Regions from separate parts of the Homo sapiens genome. Here region 1 is linked to region 2. Evidence: fine-mapped expression QTL. A gene starts in region 2. The other region holds a variant in brackets. All regions are shown on one strand. Distances are from middle to middle. Region 1 overlaps TSC2 (TSC complex subunit 2). Region 2 holds the start of TSC2 (TSC complex subunit 2).

Region 1 (8,000 bases), 33 kb before region 2:
GGAGGGGATGGTGGGCACCCAGGTGAGGGCCTGGCCAGGGCAGCCACAGCCCACAGGGAGGAACACAGAGCCTGGCCATCTCCCACTCCACCGCCCTCCCAGGGGTTCCAGCCAGCCCTAGGGCACAGGCGAGGACCCCACCCCAGCCCGCTCGGCCTGGGGCAAGTGAGGCACCAGGTTCCCGCAGGAGAGGTGTCAGGAGCCCCGCCCGGAAGCAAGAGGCCCACCTGGGGTTGATGCCTGGCACTTTCTCTGCATTGGAGGCTGTGGCTCTGCTCTTTAAGGCGTCCCTCTCTACTCTCTTGCCCCTGCGTGATGGGGCCGAGTCGGAGATGGTGTAACCTCGGGGCCGGAGGCCACTGGGCGAGCGGGGGGAGCTGGAAGGCAAGGGACCCTCGGGCTGGCCCCGACTGTCTTCGCCCGAGGCCGACCAGGCAGCACTTTCCCCGTCCAGGGTCCCTGACTGTGACCGGGCCTTAACCTCAGGGCTCAGCCGGCCCACGTCGGCCTTGTCCCCAGGGTCCCCGAGGATGTCCTGCAGAGTCTGCAGCTCGGGAGAGGAGCTGGACTTGCTCAGGGGCTGCGAGGGCTGGAAGGAGAGGTCCACAGAGGGCCGGCCACCCTCCGAGGAGACGACTCGCTCGATGGGGATGCCCCTGCCAACCAGCTCCTCCGCGTGGAGCGACTTCTCCTCCTGGCTGGAGACTGAGGACGACTAGAAAGGACCATCCCAAAGAGAACCCCTGTCAGCAGGCACCCTCGAGCCCACCTGGGGTTGACCTGGAGGTGGTGAGGCCCTATCTGTCCTCCATCCCAGGGCCACAGACCAGCCCGAGCACCAGGCTACGGCCCCCGCCCGTTGACGCAGCAGCACTGCCACCAGCTGTGCCCCACACTGCGTGAGCAGAGGTATCAGCATCCCCTGAGACCACAGGCTGCCCAGCAGCCAGGGCCGGCCCAGGTGGATGGCTGCAAAGTGCAGACCGTCTGTGCACGAGGGATGTGGAAGAACATCTCCCCCAAGTTCAGAGCCAGTTCCCAGGGTGCAGGCACACCCACGCAGAGCCCTGCCTCCCCTAAGGAGCCCCCCGAGGTCAGCAGGGTCCAGGCTCTGAGCCACACTCACCCTGCTGTAGGCATCCGTGCGCCTGTCCATGCCTAGCGCTGCCTCAACGTCCTCCAACCCTGGGGGCTCCACCAGCACAGGAACCTCGCCCGGACTTCCCTCCTCCATGACCACGGCGGAGTCTGGGAGGACACAGACGGGGCTGCTGGATGTGGGGCTGGGCCAGGCCCTGGCCCTGACGTGGCCTCCGAGAACCAGCCTTCTCCTGACCAGAGGGACAGCAGCCCTGCGAGCCTCCCCAGGGCTCTGCTTACTGCTGCCATCCACCGAGCGGGCAGGGAGGACGCTGGGAAGGCCTGCACGTGACCCCGACACAGGCCTCTCCTGCATGAGTGCCCGGGGGTTGGGCAGGCAATCGGCTCTGCCCACCCTAGTGTCCACCAGCAGCCACCCCTGTGCCTCCAGGTAGGCAGGGGCAAGACGCTCTCCGCCCGACGGGCCTCAGCTCTAAAAGAGCGGGAGCCTGAAACCAGCCCTCGTAACCGAGGAGAGCTGCGGAGACTCCGTGACGTGGGGGAAGTCCCTGTTTGCAAACAGACTGCTCCCAAGAGCAGAGGCTCACCCTCCAACTCCAAGCCAGACCCACAGCTGGGGACGCTAAGGAGAGAGGGTGGGAGGTCCCAAAGCAGCATTTCCTGTGCCAGCGTCAGGACAGGGGGAGAGGAAGTAGAAGCAGCAACAGAGGGGACCATCACAGCCCCCGGGCGCCCCACAGCCCTGCACACGCGCAGTCAGCCACCCCAGGGCCCGTCCCACGCAGCCCTTCCAAACCAGCTCGTCTGCACGTGGAGACCTGGCAGGGGAGCACCATGCAGGTCACAGCACTCCCCACCAGGGCTTGGGGGCAACAGGCAGAGGTCGGTCTGCAGGGCCCCTGGTCAACCTGGGACTTGAGGCAGCCCCATCTGTGGGTTCCAGAGGCCAGGGGAGCCACCAAAGGCCAGGGCAAGGCCCGCTCGGTGCAGGCCCAGGGGTGGGCTTCCCCCTAAACAGCTGCCACCCATCAGAGTCTGCAGCTCAGCTGATGTCACCATGGAGACTCAGGCCACCCCCACCCCTCAGGCCTGAAGCTGGGCCGGGAGTGCTCGCACAGCGTGGGAACAGGGCTCAGCCACAAAGGGACCAAGTCAAGGGGATCCCGCTGGCCAAGCCAAAGACATTCTGCACAGACGTCCTCATGCGAGTCGGGACCTGCTCCCCAGGGCAATGGAGGCAGACGGACCATGGGGGTGGGCGGATGAGGCGACGAGCACAGCACCTATGAGGCAGAGTGGCGCTCTGCAGCCAACCGCTTCCCTCTGAGAGGCGATACCTGCCCAGGAAACGCTCCTGTGCAGCTGTCCTTGGCAGCTGGACTGGTACAGGGAGGAGAAAGAGGCCACTGCAAGGGAAGGCCGTGTGCGGCCACGTCAGCAGGAGGAGGGGCTACACACAGGTCGAGCAGAGAGCACAGGCCCCGTGCCTGCAGAGGAGAGAGGGCAGGGCCAGCGGCCGGCAGGGGCGCGCACGGGGCCCAGTGCTAGCTACAAGCTGCTTGGGCAGACCTGAGGAGGGCAGTGCCTCCCTCCTCCCGTGAATAGACGTCCTAGGCCGCTAAGTGCCATCTGCAGCCACAGGGAAGAGCCAGAGGGCCTGGCGAGAAGCACGGTGCCGAGTGGGGTGGGGGCCCAGAGTGCGCAGGCGGGCTCAGGTGTCCAAACCTGGGCCCAGGCAGGGAGGGAGGCTGCCGCAGAGCCTCCTGGAGCCCGCAGTGCTGGACTCCCCACGGAGGATGCTGGGCAGAGGCTCCACAGGGCCCCTACTGCTTCTGAAGCTGCCAGCCCCAGCTTCCTGAGCAGGGCAGACACCTCCCACGGGTCAGCCTCCTCCCAAACACCGGAGAACAATGGTGCTGAGGCAGGCCAGGGACCACTCCCAGCCGTGTGGGCGCCCTCAGCAGAGAGGAGCCACATTGCCGTCACCGGGAGCACCAGGCCAGTGGGAGCAGAGCCCGTGCCAAGGCCCGCCATGCCACTCACCTGTGTTGGAGCGAGGCAGAGGAGGGGGTTTGGCCGTGCTGGCTGCCGGCACCGACAGTGACTTGTACAGGGCTGTGTCCCGGTGCTCCTTGAAGCGCTCAGCCGCCATGAGGGCGTTAGACAGCTCCTGCAGGGGCATGTTGTTGATGTCCGAGGAGAAAGGGCTGAGCGGGTTCTCCAGGCTCATCAGCCAGCTGGTGTTCCCTGCGGAGGCGGCAGCACCTTTGGCCTGAGGCCAGTACCTCCCCTTACCCATCTCTGGCCCCCCAGGGGCCTCCTGGCCTGGGCCCTGGTTTTGCCCTCATGCTCCCTCCCACAATCCTCAGGACCACGATGTCGGAGCCAGCGCTGCTCTGACGGCCACCCACCCTGCTGCCCCGCTCAGCCCCTGCCTCGAGGCCAGGCTCCGCCAGGCACCTCAGAGCAGCGGCCTCCAGCCCACAGCCTCACAGTCCGGACCCAAGGCCTCCACGAGGGCTGGAACCCCTACTCTTTGCACCCCTCAGCCACGGCACACCCAGGCGCCCCTGGGCTCTGGGCCTCTGCAAAGGCCTCCCTCTGTCCCTGGGCTCTGGGCCTCTGCGGGGGCTCCCTCTGCCCCTGGGAACAGGCTGAGCTGTGCCCCCATGTTGGTATGCTTTAGTCCCAACCCCAGGAACTCAGAACGGGACTGTCTCTGGAGACTGGGTTTCAGAAAGCTAATTACGGCTAGCAAGGGACCAGAGCGGACCCTAAGCCATGACCGGTTTCCTCCCAAGAGGAGATTAACACGCAGACATCCAGGAAAGAGCCTGTGAGGACACAGGGAAAAAACCAACTGCATGCCAAGGATTGAGGCCTCTGAGGAGCACCTCCTGCCGAGGAGCACCTTGGTCTCGGACTTGCAGCCTCCAGGCGGGGAGGGCAACTCTCTGCCATGGAAGTCACTTGGTTCGCCACAGGCCCCTGCCCCACCTCAGCCACCTGGATCGCCCCTCACAGCTCACCTCTGGAGACTTACAAGTTACCCCCAAATGGCTGGGCGCGGTGGCTCACGCCTGTAATCCCAGCACTTTGGGAGGCCAAGGCGGGCGGATCACGAGGTCAGGAGATTGAGACCATCCTGGCTAACAC[A/G]GTGAAACCCCATCTCTACTAGAAATACAAAAAAATTGGCCAGGCGTGGTGGCGGGCGCCTGTGGTCCCAGCTACTCGGGAGGCTGAGGCAGGAGAATGGCGTGAACCCGGGAGGTGGAGCTTGCAGTGAGCCGAGATTGCGCCACTGCGTTCCAGCGTGGGCCACAGAGCAAGACTCTGTCTCAAAAAAAAAACAAAAGTTACCCCCAAATATCCCAAGAGGGCCAAGTCTGCAATCGCCCCTGAGTGTCCACAGCTCTGTGGGTGACTGGCAGAAAGATGGCGCTCAGGCCAGCCCCGCCCAGTACCTGTGGGCCTCCGGACCAGGATCTCCGCCCAGCCCTGGGTCAGCAGGGGCACATAGGCCGCCAGGTTCGTCTTCTCCTGCACAGGAACCCGGGTGCCAGCTGAGGCCTTCTCAGGTTTCGCGGCTGGTGCAGTCCGTGGTCCTGGAGAAGTGGCACTGCCCAGGAACTGGGAGGCCGGCACGTCCAGGGCGCCAACTCGAAGACCATGGCCCCCTGAAGAAGAGGGCAGAGGACTGGTGACCACCACTTACCTGATGCAAAACCACCAGCCTCAAGCTGAATGCTCCCCCCGAGCCTGGCAAGCTAGTGCCACAGGCAGCCAGAGACGGTGGCAGCTCTGCCCTTGGGGCACGGCCCACCACAGTGCTGGCCTCAGTGAACCCAGGGCCACAGGGAGGGACCCAGAACCTGTCCTGCAGTCAGACCACGGCTCGCTGGAGCAGAGAAGGGCTCCAGGACTGAGCCGAGCTGAAAACCCGCAGGAAACACCAGCACCCAGAGCAGGCCCCTCTGCAGCAAGCGGGCCACACTCCACCACTCCACGGCTCTGGGGTGAGCTGTGGAAGGCTCACCCCAGAGTCAGGACGTGGGCCGGGCCTGAAGCCAGCCACCCCGGCCCCTGGGCTCGGGGCCTTCCTGAACACTGGGACCAGCAGCAACTGAGGGAGCCCCGGTGCCTGTGTGGAGGTGGCTGGGGCCAAGGCTCACCCGACATGGAACGGACCCGATCCCGGGCCCCACGGGACACCTGCTGCCCAGCCTGGGACTCCAGCTTGGCCGGCGCCTCCTTGGTCTGTCTCACATGCACCCCGGGGCTGGAGCTGAGAAGAGAATCCCACGCACAGGGTGGACTTAGTCCCCAGGCTGGTACGAGGGTGCCACGTGGGCCTGGGCTCGGGACAGCCGGTGTCGAGGCTGGCAGGCGCGGAGGAAAGGAAGGTGCAGTCACCTCGACTCCGGGCCGGACTGCAGCTCCCCCGAGTCCAGGCCTAGTAACGACCGGGTCCCGGTTCCCACGCTTGTCGTCACAGTGACAAGCTTGTTCCCAACCAGCCAGGTTTTGGTCCTGCCACCCGCTAGGAGGAACTCGCCCACAGGAGACCTAGAAGACAGGGAGCGTGAAACCCAGCTTGCCCGTGGAGCTCCCGCAGGCCCGCCCAGCCCTGTAGTGCCGCCTGGACCTCTTCGGGACAGCCGTGAAGTTGGAGAAGACGTATCGAGCCATCATGTCCAGACAGGTTTCCGTGAGCTCCAGGTGGAGGTTTTTCAGGCTATCGTCAGCCTGGGCCACGGAGTTCTCATCTGCAGACCCCAAGCTGGCACTGGTGAGGGACGTCTGTATCCTGCTGGAGGGAGAGGCCGTGACCAGGGTCAGGGTGCCAGGTAGGGCGGGCCGAGCCACCTATCACCAAGGGCCAAAGCTCAACGCATGCACGGCTGAGGACCTCGCTCGGAAAGACCCCAACAGGGCGTGGGCGGCCCAGCGAGCCTCAGCTTGAGAATCACGTGGACCACATTGTCCCAGAGAACGGGGAGACGCTGGGTGGGGAAGACCAGGCCTACTGGTCGGAGCAGACTCAGGAGGCTAGAGACCGACATCCCCCTCACCGAAGCCCACGGGAGCACTAGGTTACGGCCTCCTGGCGAAACGGTGTAGTCATGCAGAGAGGCGGAGGCCACACAGACAGGCCCAGATTGCATTCTGCCCGCAGGCTGCCTCCGGCAAGCACACAGAGGTCTGGGATCCCCATGTGGCCTTCCACCGTCACCCTCAGGCAGGCGAGCGGCTGCCTGAGCTCCACACCCAGTGACAGGGAAGAGGCTTATGGGAGTTCATTCTGATACAAATTTCATAGCCCCTAGGCAATATTTTGCTCATGATACAGAATGTGCTAGAAAATGGCTTTAAGCCTCACCGAGCACCTCTACCACCCCAACCCCTGGCCAAGTCCCACCCAGCAGAGGCCGGCCTGAGGTGAGGAGGTGGATGGACTGAGGGCCATGGGACCCCTTGGCCTGCAACGGGCTTCCAGGAGGAGACAGGTATCCCCTCTGCCAGTGCCAGCAGCGATGACCCACAGGCAGGTGACAGCCGAGAGCCCGAGAGCCCACACCTGCACCCAGACACTGCGGGGAGAACTAAGACCATGGCCTGGGGCCCAGGCCCATGCCCATGCCCTGCAGGATCCTAGCCCCCACCCAGGCCCTCCCAGGCTGCCCCACCCCAGCACCCTCCACAAATGCCCCTTGTTCCCTTTCAGCTACAACAAAAAATAAACCTTGTTGAGAAGAAAGCCCGAAGAAAAACGTCCATTCTAGAGAATACGAAAAGGCCAAAACCAGGAGTGGTGTCTCCCCCAACCCACACTGCGGCCCTTGGGGACAGCCTGGGGAGGCTGCTGCCCGGCACGCCTGGCTCTCTCGGAGCGGCACCCCGAGGGGGCCTGGGGATGCGTGCAACCAGCCCGTGCTCATACGGGGCCTGGGGACAGAATGCAACCTTTCCACCCCTCGTCACCGGCTCCCCCTGGGCTGGCCAGGGAGGACACGGGCAGACGATGAGGTCATGCAAGCAGCCCCATGCACTGCCACCCAGGTGCTCACGGGGCCAAGCTCCAGGGTCCGTGCCCCCCACCCGACAGTCCCGCTACCTGCGGACCACATGTTCAGACACACTGATGCTGCGGCACCGGAAGGCCTCGGCTGCAGAGCTCTCCTTGAATTCTTTCACGGGTGGAGAGTTATTCAAGCCTTGTTTGGGGGGTCTGGCTATCCTCAGACTATCGGGTGAGGAAGGAGCCCCAACGCCCCAGAGAGCCCAGCTCCCGGGAAGGGGAGAACAAGCCAGTGGAGGGGTGAGGAGGAAAGGTCCCAGGCCACAGGGTCAGGATGGAGAGATCCCGCGGGTGAGATGAGCAAAAAGAGCCATGCCAAAGGGCAGTTAGCGGGGAAGAGACAGAAAACAAAAATGCATGATAATACGTCTGGTAAACATGACTGAGAACAAGTAAGGCTTCACGCATGACACCAAAACAAACAACGTCAGTGCAAATTAAACGTGTGTGGGTCACCCCCACGGCAGATTCCAGGCTGTGCTGGCCAGGCAATCCCACCCACCCGCGGAAGGCAGGCACCGCCCAGCTCTGACCGAGGCGGCACTGAGGCCTCAGTGGCCAGGCCCTGAAGGTCACTAGGAAAAGAGACCAAGACCCCAGAAAGTAGTCTCTGGCCGTAATGGCCGAGCTTGGCCCCCGGCCCCCAGGGGCTGGAGACAACAGCTTCCGAGTTGAGGTCACGCTGGAAAATGCCGTATTCCCATCTAGGGAAAGCCAAAATAGCTCGGGCAGGAAGGTGGGGGACAGGAGGAGAAAGCCGTTCAAATGAAATGCAAACAAGAACACAGAGGCTGGCTCAGCTCTTTGCGGTCCGGCAAGG
Region 2 (8,160 bases):
CTCCCTCAGCCTCCCAAGTAGCTGGGATTACAGGTGCCCGACACCATGCCCAGCTAATTTTTGTATCTTTAGTAGAAACAGGGTTTTGCCACATTGGCCAGGCGGGTCTCGAACTCCTCACCTCAGGTGATCCATCCACCTTGGCCTCCCAAAGTGCTGGGATTACAGGCGTGAACCACTGCGCCCGGCTAAGGACACCTGTTCTTTACACCTATCTTTGGTAGCGTACGGCCAGCACGTTTCAGATGAGCTGCTGCAGAGGTAGCAATCACTCTCCTCTTAGCAGATCTGAGCATGAGAGGTCCAGGTCTCACTGCTCTCCCACACACAAATGCTGGGCAAGGCAAGGGCAGAGCCCTCAGGTGCTCTACCAGCAACCTGCACTCCCAAAATGACCACTTCCTGTCCTGTCCACAAGTCATCAGGAAAGTCTGGCAATGTTTGCCCAAAATAAATATTTCTATGTCCGTGAGGTCGCCCAATACCACCGACCAGTCACCCTCCCAAAATGGCACCAAGACCAGCGTGCCTAGGATTGTTCTCTGTGGAACAAACCCTTTCTTGATTTTTCTTGGCCTGAACTTGTAACAGGAGAGAGCGAGTGAGCATGCGTTTCTATCAGCCACTACAAACTCTTCCTTTTTTTTTTTTTTGAGACAGAGTCTTGCTCCGTCACCCAGACTGGAGTGCAGTGGGGCGATCTCGGCTCACTGCAACCTGTGCCTCCCGGGTTCAAGCGATTCTCCTGCCTCAGCCTCCCAAGTAGCTGGGATTACAGGCATGTGCCACCATGCCCGGCTCATCATCTTTTAGTACAGACGGGGTTTCGCCATGTTGGCCAGAGTGGTCTTGAACTCCTGACCTCGTGATCCACCCACCTCGGCCTCCCAAAGTCCTAGGATTACAGGCATAAGCCCCCGCACCCCCGCTCGGCATAGAAATCCTTTCTGGTGTTGCTAGAAAAGCCTAATCCCTTTGCTCCCCATTTCCACGCTTGATTGGTCCCTCAAGGTTGTATTCGGGGCATTTCCAGTAGCTTCCCCATCACTACGATGAAAGCTAAATTCCCCTAAAACAGTGCAAACTGGCTGGGCGCAGTGGCTCACGCCTGTAATCCCAGCACTTTGGGAGGCTGAGGCATATGGTTCACGAGGTCAGGAGTTCAAGACCAGCCTGGCCAACATGGCGAAACCCCGTCTCTACTAAAAATACAAAAAGCCGGGTGTGGTGGCGCGTGCCTGTAATCCCAGCTACTCAGGAGGCTGAGGCAGGAGAACTGCTTGAACCCAGGAGGCAGAGGCTGCAGTGAGCCAAGATTGTGCCAGCCTGGGCGACAGAGCAAGACTCCATCTCAAAAAAAAAAAAAAAAAAAAAGTGCAAACCAGATCATCGGCAGTCAGCTGTCAACCATGTTCCTAAAAAAAGCAAACTCAGGCTCTGAATAGTCTACGTGCCTCTCTCTAGTAGCTCAACTGGATAAACCTACCTCTTCAAATTTCTTGGTTTTTGCGACTTCACAAATCTGCCCTATCATCCGGATGCGATTGTTGAGGCCACATTCCATGCTCAGTTCCTGGAGAGAGATGAAAGAAGAAAAAGGGGCCAGTGCTCAGGCCACGGTCTCCTTAACTGCAAGTCACAAACCACCTAAAGACTCCCACTGCATTTTCCAGACTAGAGACTTAAAACAGATCTTTCTGGAATCAAGATTCACTTGACGAGCCGCGGTGGCTCAGGCCTGTAATCCCTGCACTTTGGGGGGCCAAGGCAGGTGGATCACCAGAGGTCAGGAGTTTGAGACCAGCCTGCCCAACATGATGAAACCCTGTCTCTACTAAAAATACAAAAAATTTGCTGGGCGTGGTGGTGGGCGTCTATAATCCCAGCTACTCGGGAGAGTGAGGCAGGAGAATCCCTTGAACCCAGGAGGCGGAGATTGCAGTGAGCCGAGATCGCGCCCCTGCGCTCCAGCCTGGGTGACAAGAGCGAAACTCGGTCTCAAAAAAAAAAAAAAAAAAAGATTTACTGAGGGGCTTTACTGCTCCATCCCGAGGAGTTGAGAATGTGCAATTTTTTTTCACAACTGCAAATGTTGTATTGAGATAAAACATAACATGAAATACAATTTCAAACTGCACAATTTTTTTTTAGACGGAGTTTTGCTCTTCTTCCCCAGGATGGAGTGCAGTGGCGCGATCACGGCTCACTGAAACCTCCGCCTCCCGGGTTCAAGCAATTCTCGTCTCAGCCCCCCGAGTAGCTGGAATTACAGGCGCCCACCACTATGACCGGCTAATTTTTGGTATTTTTAGTAGAGACGGGGTTTCGCCATGTTGGCCAGGCTGGTCTCAAACTCCTGACCTCAGGTGATCCACCCGCCTCGGCCTCCCAAAGTGCTGGGATGACAGGCGTGAGCCACCGCACCCAGCCAGGATGGACTATATTTTATTCATCAGTTGATGAACGTTTTAGTTGTTTCTAAGTAGAAAACTTTACAAGTGCAAAAATTCAGCATTTACTCATGGGCAAAACACAATGCCAGGCATGTGTGACAAAGACACAAACACACATAAAAGATAACGACCTAGCCCATGTGCGATGGCTCATGCCTGTAATCCCAGCACTTTGGGAGGCCAAAGCGGGCAGATCACCTGAGGTCAGCAGTTCAAGACCAGCCTGGCCAAGATAGTGAAACTCCATCTCTACTAAAAATACAAAAATTAAATGGGTGTGGTGGCACGTGTCTGTAGTCCCAGCTACTCAGGAGGCTGAGGCAGGAGAACCACTTGAAACTGGGAGGCAGAGGTAGCAGCGAGCAGAGATTGTGCCACTGCACTCCAGCCTAGGCAACAGAGCAAGACTCAGTCTCAAAAAAAAAATAAAATAAAGAACCTACTTCTCCCAGGAACTCACATCTTATCATGTAACACCTGGACATATCCTTACCTGTGAAGATGATGATACTCAGGCCTCATCTATAAGATGGGCTTTCTTTCATCAACATCTGAATAGTAACTCAAGTGTGCCTGAACCAGGTCACCAAGATCCTGACTTTCGAAGTCTCCTGAGGAAGGACATGTCGGCCTCCAAGTACTGGAGACAGCATTCCTGTGTAGACAGTTGCCAGCAACCCGTCTCCCACAGAACCTGGTGCAAGACCAAACCCAGCCTTCTCTGCATTTCCCTCTAGCCTAGCAAAGACACAGGTAGCTCACTCACTCTCAGTATTTCCGCGGTGATGATAAACTCCGTCTGTTTACCCTCTGCAGACCTGGGATTTGGCCTCGGTGTTCCCAGTCCCAACAGAATCTTAAACTTCTCCTTCAAGCCTGAATCTTTGCTTGTTGGTTTGGCCATGGTGGACCAGGACGCACCAGAAAACCCCTCTGTGCAAACGAAACAGGAATGGGGACATCTGAGCAACACCTCTGCCCACCTTCCCCACTGCGGACCTCCAGCCGTCAGGACCCTGGGTCTCTGGTGGGCATAACCTTTCCTCCCACACTCCCTGGGAGAACTCAACTACAGCCCAGCTGACCAGCTCGCAAACAGGCACCTAGGAAAGCCCGGGAGACACCAGGCCTGGTCTAGAGAGCTCTCTACTCAGACGCTGCCGCCCGCCCCGCCCGACTCAGTGCACGGGTTAGGACTGCCGCCGCGAAGTCCTGGGAGCCCCGACGTTTGCCGTCTCTCCTCTACCCATGTGAAGCAGGAGCTGTCACGGAGCCGCCTGCAGCAGAGACCCGTTCGCACCCGCCATGACTTAAAACTAAGGGATGCTCGGAGCTCCGGAGTCGGGTTGCAGTGGGCGCGGGTGAGGGCCCGGGACCCGGACACTGCGGGGTCCGCCTCTCTAGGCCGCTGCCCCGTGGGGACCGCCACTTGCCCCGTGGGGACCGCCACTTACCCCGCGCCGCGCCACCGCGCTCCGGGCCGCCCCGACGCGGAGAAAGGCGCACCCCCCTGGCCCCGGGACGCCGCCGGAAGCGCGACCCGCACTTCCGGTAGCGGCATTGCGCGGAGGGCCGCCTTGGGAGCTTGCTGGGAGTTGTAGTTCTGTGCCGCCCTCTGGCGGAAAGGCCGGCGATCCTTGCATCACGTGACGGGGCCGCATGGGCCGCCGGGATGTGTAGTCCGCAGGAGTCCGGCATGACCGCCTTGAGCGCGAGGATGCTGACCCGGAGCCGGAGCCTGGGACCCGGGGCTGGGCCGCGGGGGTGTAGGGAGGAGCCCGGGCCTCTCCGGAGAAGAGAGGCTGCAGCAGGTAGCGCCGCGCCGTGGCTGGAGCGTGGGAGGAGGCGGGATAGGGGCTGCAGGCTGGAGTCCCGGGCCGCCTCCTGCGGCTCCCAGCTGCGCGGGCAGGGGCTGCAAACCCGGCAGCCGCGAACGGTTCCCACGTGCGGCCCTGCGTTCCCACCTTGCGCCTTTTTCCCAAAGATTGCGGTCCGCAGGGGCTGGGTTTCGGGCGCTCCGCTCCGCTGCCCCCTTTCGCCCCAAGCAAGAAAACGCTTCCTTTCCCACCACTCTGTCCGGGACTCTCCACTCCAGGCTCTGTGGGTCCCATCCCCGCCCTCCTGCAGTGAACTTGCTGTCCTCGGAGAGGCTGGGTGCCAAGGACACACGCAGCCAGAAGCCTGCTCCCCCAGCTCGGGGGAGGGTGCCTCTGAGGGAAAACAGGAAAGGGCATGGCACTTATTATATTTATCCTGCAGCCGTTGAGGACCTGCTGGGGGCCAAGCACTGCAGTGAGCAGTGAGGGACACGGACAGGGCCTCTGCGCTAGTCCCGCTGGGACTTCTGCAGAATTGGCCAGAGCTGGATTCCCATAGGCACCCAGGGACCCCAGGGGTAGTCCAGACTATGTCAGGAGGAACTGGTGCAGCTGGGAGCAGGCAGGTGGTGATGCCAGCCAGGGTGGCAGGAGCTTTGATGCCAGGATAGAGTTTGGAGTTTATTATGACAGTAAACGGAAGTCAATTAGGAGGTTTTGTTGTTTGTTTTGAGATCGGGTCTTGCTCTGTCACCCAGGCTGTAGTGGAGTGTTGTGATCTCAGCTCACTGCAACCTCCGCCCCCCAGGTTCAAGCAGTTCTCCTGCCTCAGCCTCCCAAGTAGCTGAGACTATAGGCCCCTGCCACCACACCCGGCTAACTTTTGTATTTTTAGTAGAGATGGGGTTTTGCCATATTGGCCAGGCTGGTCTTGAACTCCTGACCTCAAGTGATCCACCCACCTCGGCCTCCCAAAGTGCTGGGATTACAGGCTTGATCCACCGCGCCCGGCCGGCCAGGATTTTTTAAAAGGGAGTGACACAACCTGATGTGGGTGTTAGCAGACTGTCTCTGGTGCAGTATAGAAGATGTATTGGGGGCACCTTGGTACAGGCTGTTGCTAGAGTCCTCATGAGCTAACATGGACCTTGTCAGGGTCGCTGGCATAAGGAGGGCCCACATACCCCAGACTGCAGAGGGCAGAGCACCCCAAGTGTATTAGATGATGGACAGTTGTGGCATGAACGAGTGAGGGGTGAGCTAGCAGGCGGGATGGCACCCCTACCCTACCTTCACCTGTGGCCCCACCAGAGGGACTGCGTGGTGCTTTTTGCAGAAGCGAGGAAAAGCCACAGCCCCGTGAAGCGTCCGCGGAAAGCACAGAGACTGCGTGTGGCCTATGAGGGCTCGGACAGTGAGAAAGGTGAGGGGGCTGAGCCCCTCAAGGTGCCAGTCTGGGAGCCCCAGGACTGGCAGCAACAGCTGGTCAACATCCGTGCCATGAGGAACAAAAAGGATGCACCTGTGGACCATCTGGGGACTGAGCACTGCTATGACTCCAGTGCCCCCCCAAAGGTAGGCAGGGGCCCCATCTGCCCAGATGACCCCCCATCTTAGCAAGGTCCTTGTTTTCTTTCTACCCGGTGGCTTTTGGCTGGCACCCTCCCCTGCAGACAGCACCTTGGGAGGATGGACACCCGGTGCCCCAGAGCATCGCCTGCATCACTGTAGCCACTCAGCAGGTCAGGACACCAGTGGTTTAGGGCCTCGTGCTCGAACTTCTGCCCAGTGCAGGCGTGACCTGGGCTTTGTGTGATATCAGGAAGGAAGAGTTCCTTTTGCTTCACGGTCCCAGGGCCTGAAACCCTTAGACCAAGCTGAGTTCTAATCCCTATTCTGCTACCAGGTGGCTTGGATACAGGCCTCTCTGAGCCTCAGTTTGCTTGTCTGTAAAATGGGTAGTATGGGCCAGGCATGGTGGTTCAGGCCTGTAATCCCAGCACTTCGGGAGGCCAAGGCGGGTGGATCACCTGAGGTCAGGAGTTCGAGACCAGCCTGGCCAATGTGGCGAAACCACGTCTCTACTAAAAATACAAAAATTAGCCAGGTGTGGTGGCAGGCACCTGTAACCCCAGCTACTTAGGAGGGCGAGGCAGGAAAATCGCTTGAACCCCGGAGGCGGAGGTTGCAGTGAGCCAAGATGGCACCACCACACTTCAGCCTGGGTGAAAGAGTGATACTGCATCTCAAAAAAAAAAATTTGTTTTAAAGGGTAGTGTGATGATTCACGAAGCAATCATAATAGTAGTGGCCAATGGCTGTTCAGTAGTGATGGGCCAGATACGATCGTGTTGGGTTTTTTTTTGAGACCAAGTCTTGCTCTTGTTGCCCAGGCTGGAGTGCAGTGGTGAAATCTTAGCTCACTGCAACCTTCGCCTCCGAGGTTCAAATTATTCTCCTGCCTCGGCCTCCCGAGTAGCTGGGATTACAGGCATGCACCACCGCACCCAGCTAATGTTTGTATTTTTAGTAGAGACGGGGTTTCACCACGTTGATCAGGCTGGTCTCAAACTCCTGACTTCAGGTGATCCGCCTGCCTTGGCCTCCCGAAGTGCTGGGATGACGGGTGCGAGCCACCACGCCCGGCCACATACGATTCTAAGCACTGAGATAATTCATTTAAGCTTCACATTACTCCAGTGAGTCAGGTACTATTATTGTCCTGGTGTTGTAGATGACCAAACATACCCAAACCAGACCTCCCCACCCCACAGGGGGAGGCTGATGCCTCAAGTGTGGCCCAGGGCAACAAACCAGGGTGTGTCGAGGGCGGGGGGCGGAGCCTGGCCAGGGAATCACCCAGGACCCGCCGCCACCCCGGTCCCTGTCACTGCACAAGCAGGTACGCAGGTACCAGGTGCTGCTGTCACTGATGCTCTCCAGCCAAACCAAAGACCAGGTGACGGCGGGCGCCATGCAGCGACTGCGGGCGCGGGGCCTGACGGTGGACAGCATCCTGCAGACAGATGATGCCACGCTGGGCAAGCTCATCTACCCCGTCGGTTTCTGGAGGGTGAGCCCTGCCTGTGGCAACGGGGGCCGGGTGGCAGTGGCCTGAGAGAGACCTCAGAAGGCTGAGGGGGGTGGCGACGGTGCAGGAAGTGAGGGTCAAGCATCTCAGGCTCGGGGGGTCCCCCTGAAGCCCCCCCCAGGCCGTGGGGCCCTGAGGCCTGACGCCCAGTCCCAGCAGCTCCTTGGCCTTCCTGTTCGCATCCTCCCTTCCTTCCTCTGCTTCCCCGCCTCGCCGCCTGCCCACCCTTCCTCACCGCCAAGGCTGCCTGCCCACCCGCCTTTCCCTTTGTTTACTGCTAGCCTCTCCCGGTGTGTCACCCCCTCCTGTCCAGAGCCCCTCACCCTCCAGGAGCCCTGGGGAGGCTGCTCCCCAACCCCGCCGAGCACTGGATGGTGGTGGGCGGATCTGTTGAAAGCAGCTTGGTGGGTGGGGCCGCTTCCCCTTGGCACCCGCGTGGGCCGCAGTTTCTCAGATGGGTTTTAAATAGCCCTCTCCACTCAGGCACAGGATGGGAACCACCCGGCAGGCCTGGCAGCTGGTGGGGAAGCCCCAGCTCCAGCCCTCCTTCCTGAAGGCGCAGGTGCAGCCAAGCCCCACTCCTGGGAGCGGCTGGCCTGCTTGGCCTGGCCTGGGTGCTGGCAGGGAATGACGGGCAGGGGAACCCCAGCCAGAGCCTACACGTGCATCATTGGCCCACACGGGTGGGAGGAGGGGGTCAGGCCTACCTTGGGCCTCCCTGCTGCCCTCCGCTTGTTCCCGCCTCCTGGGGGGCGGGGGCTGAGCTTGCACACGTCCTCAGCAGGTGCAGGTAGCTCTG

Evidence for each region. PIP is the estimated chance that this variant, and not a neighbour inherited with it, causes the effect.
Region 1: its variant is fine-mapped to the expression of TSC2 in whole blood (TOPMed, PIP above 0.99). The same link has a PIP of 0.9 or more in blood mononuclear cells, fibroblasts, lung and lymphoblastoid cells.

What each region holds. Positions count from the first base shown.
Region 1 is chr16:2,076,943-2,084,942 of GRCh38, reverse strand. TSC2 (TSC complex subunit 2) reads right to left here. Exons shown (of 42, transcript NM_000548.5): 26 at 7,217-7,345; 27 at 5,747-5,911; 28 at 5,515-5,667; 29 at 5,274-5,386; 30 at 4,566-4,778; 31 at 3,145-3,348; 32 at 2,439-2,507; 33 at 1,127-1,248; 34 at 228-715. Among named protein-coding and RNA genes, the nearest start is that of MIR1225, 9.3 kb to the left of the region's middle. RefSeq lists an enhancer at 5,812-6,521. The variant A/G (reference allele first, on the strand shown) is at 4,258.
Region 2 is chr16:2,043,813-2,051,972 of GRCh38, reverse strand. TSC2 (TSC complex subunit 2) reads right to left here and starts at 3,988. Exons shown (of 42, transcript NM_000548.5): 1 at 3,908-3,988; 2 at 3,220-3,386; 3 at 1,487-1,573. The coding sequence starts at 3,357. NTHL1 (nth like DNA glycosylase 1) reads left to right here and starts at 4,139. Exons shown (of 6, transcript NM_002528.7): 1 at 4,139-4,264; 2 at 5,607-5,845; 3 at 7,173-7,343. The coding sequence starts at 4,150. RefSeq lists a silencer at 3,725-3,954 and enhancers at 4,045-4,134, 4,585-4,644, 4,236-4,735.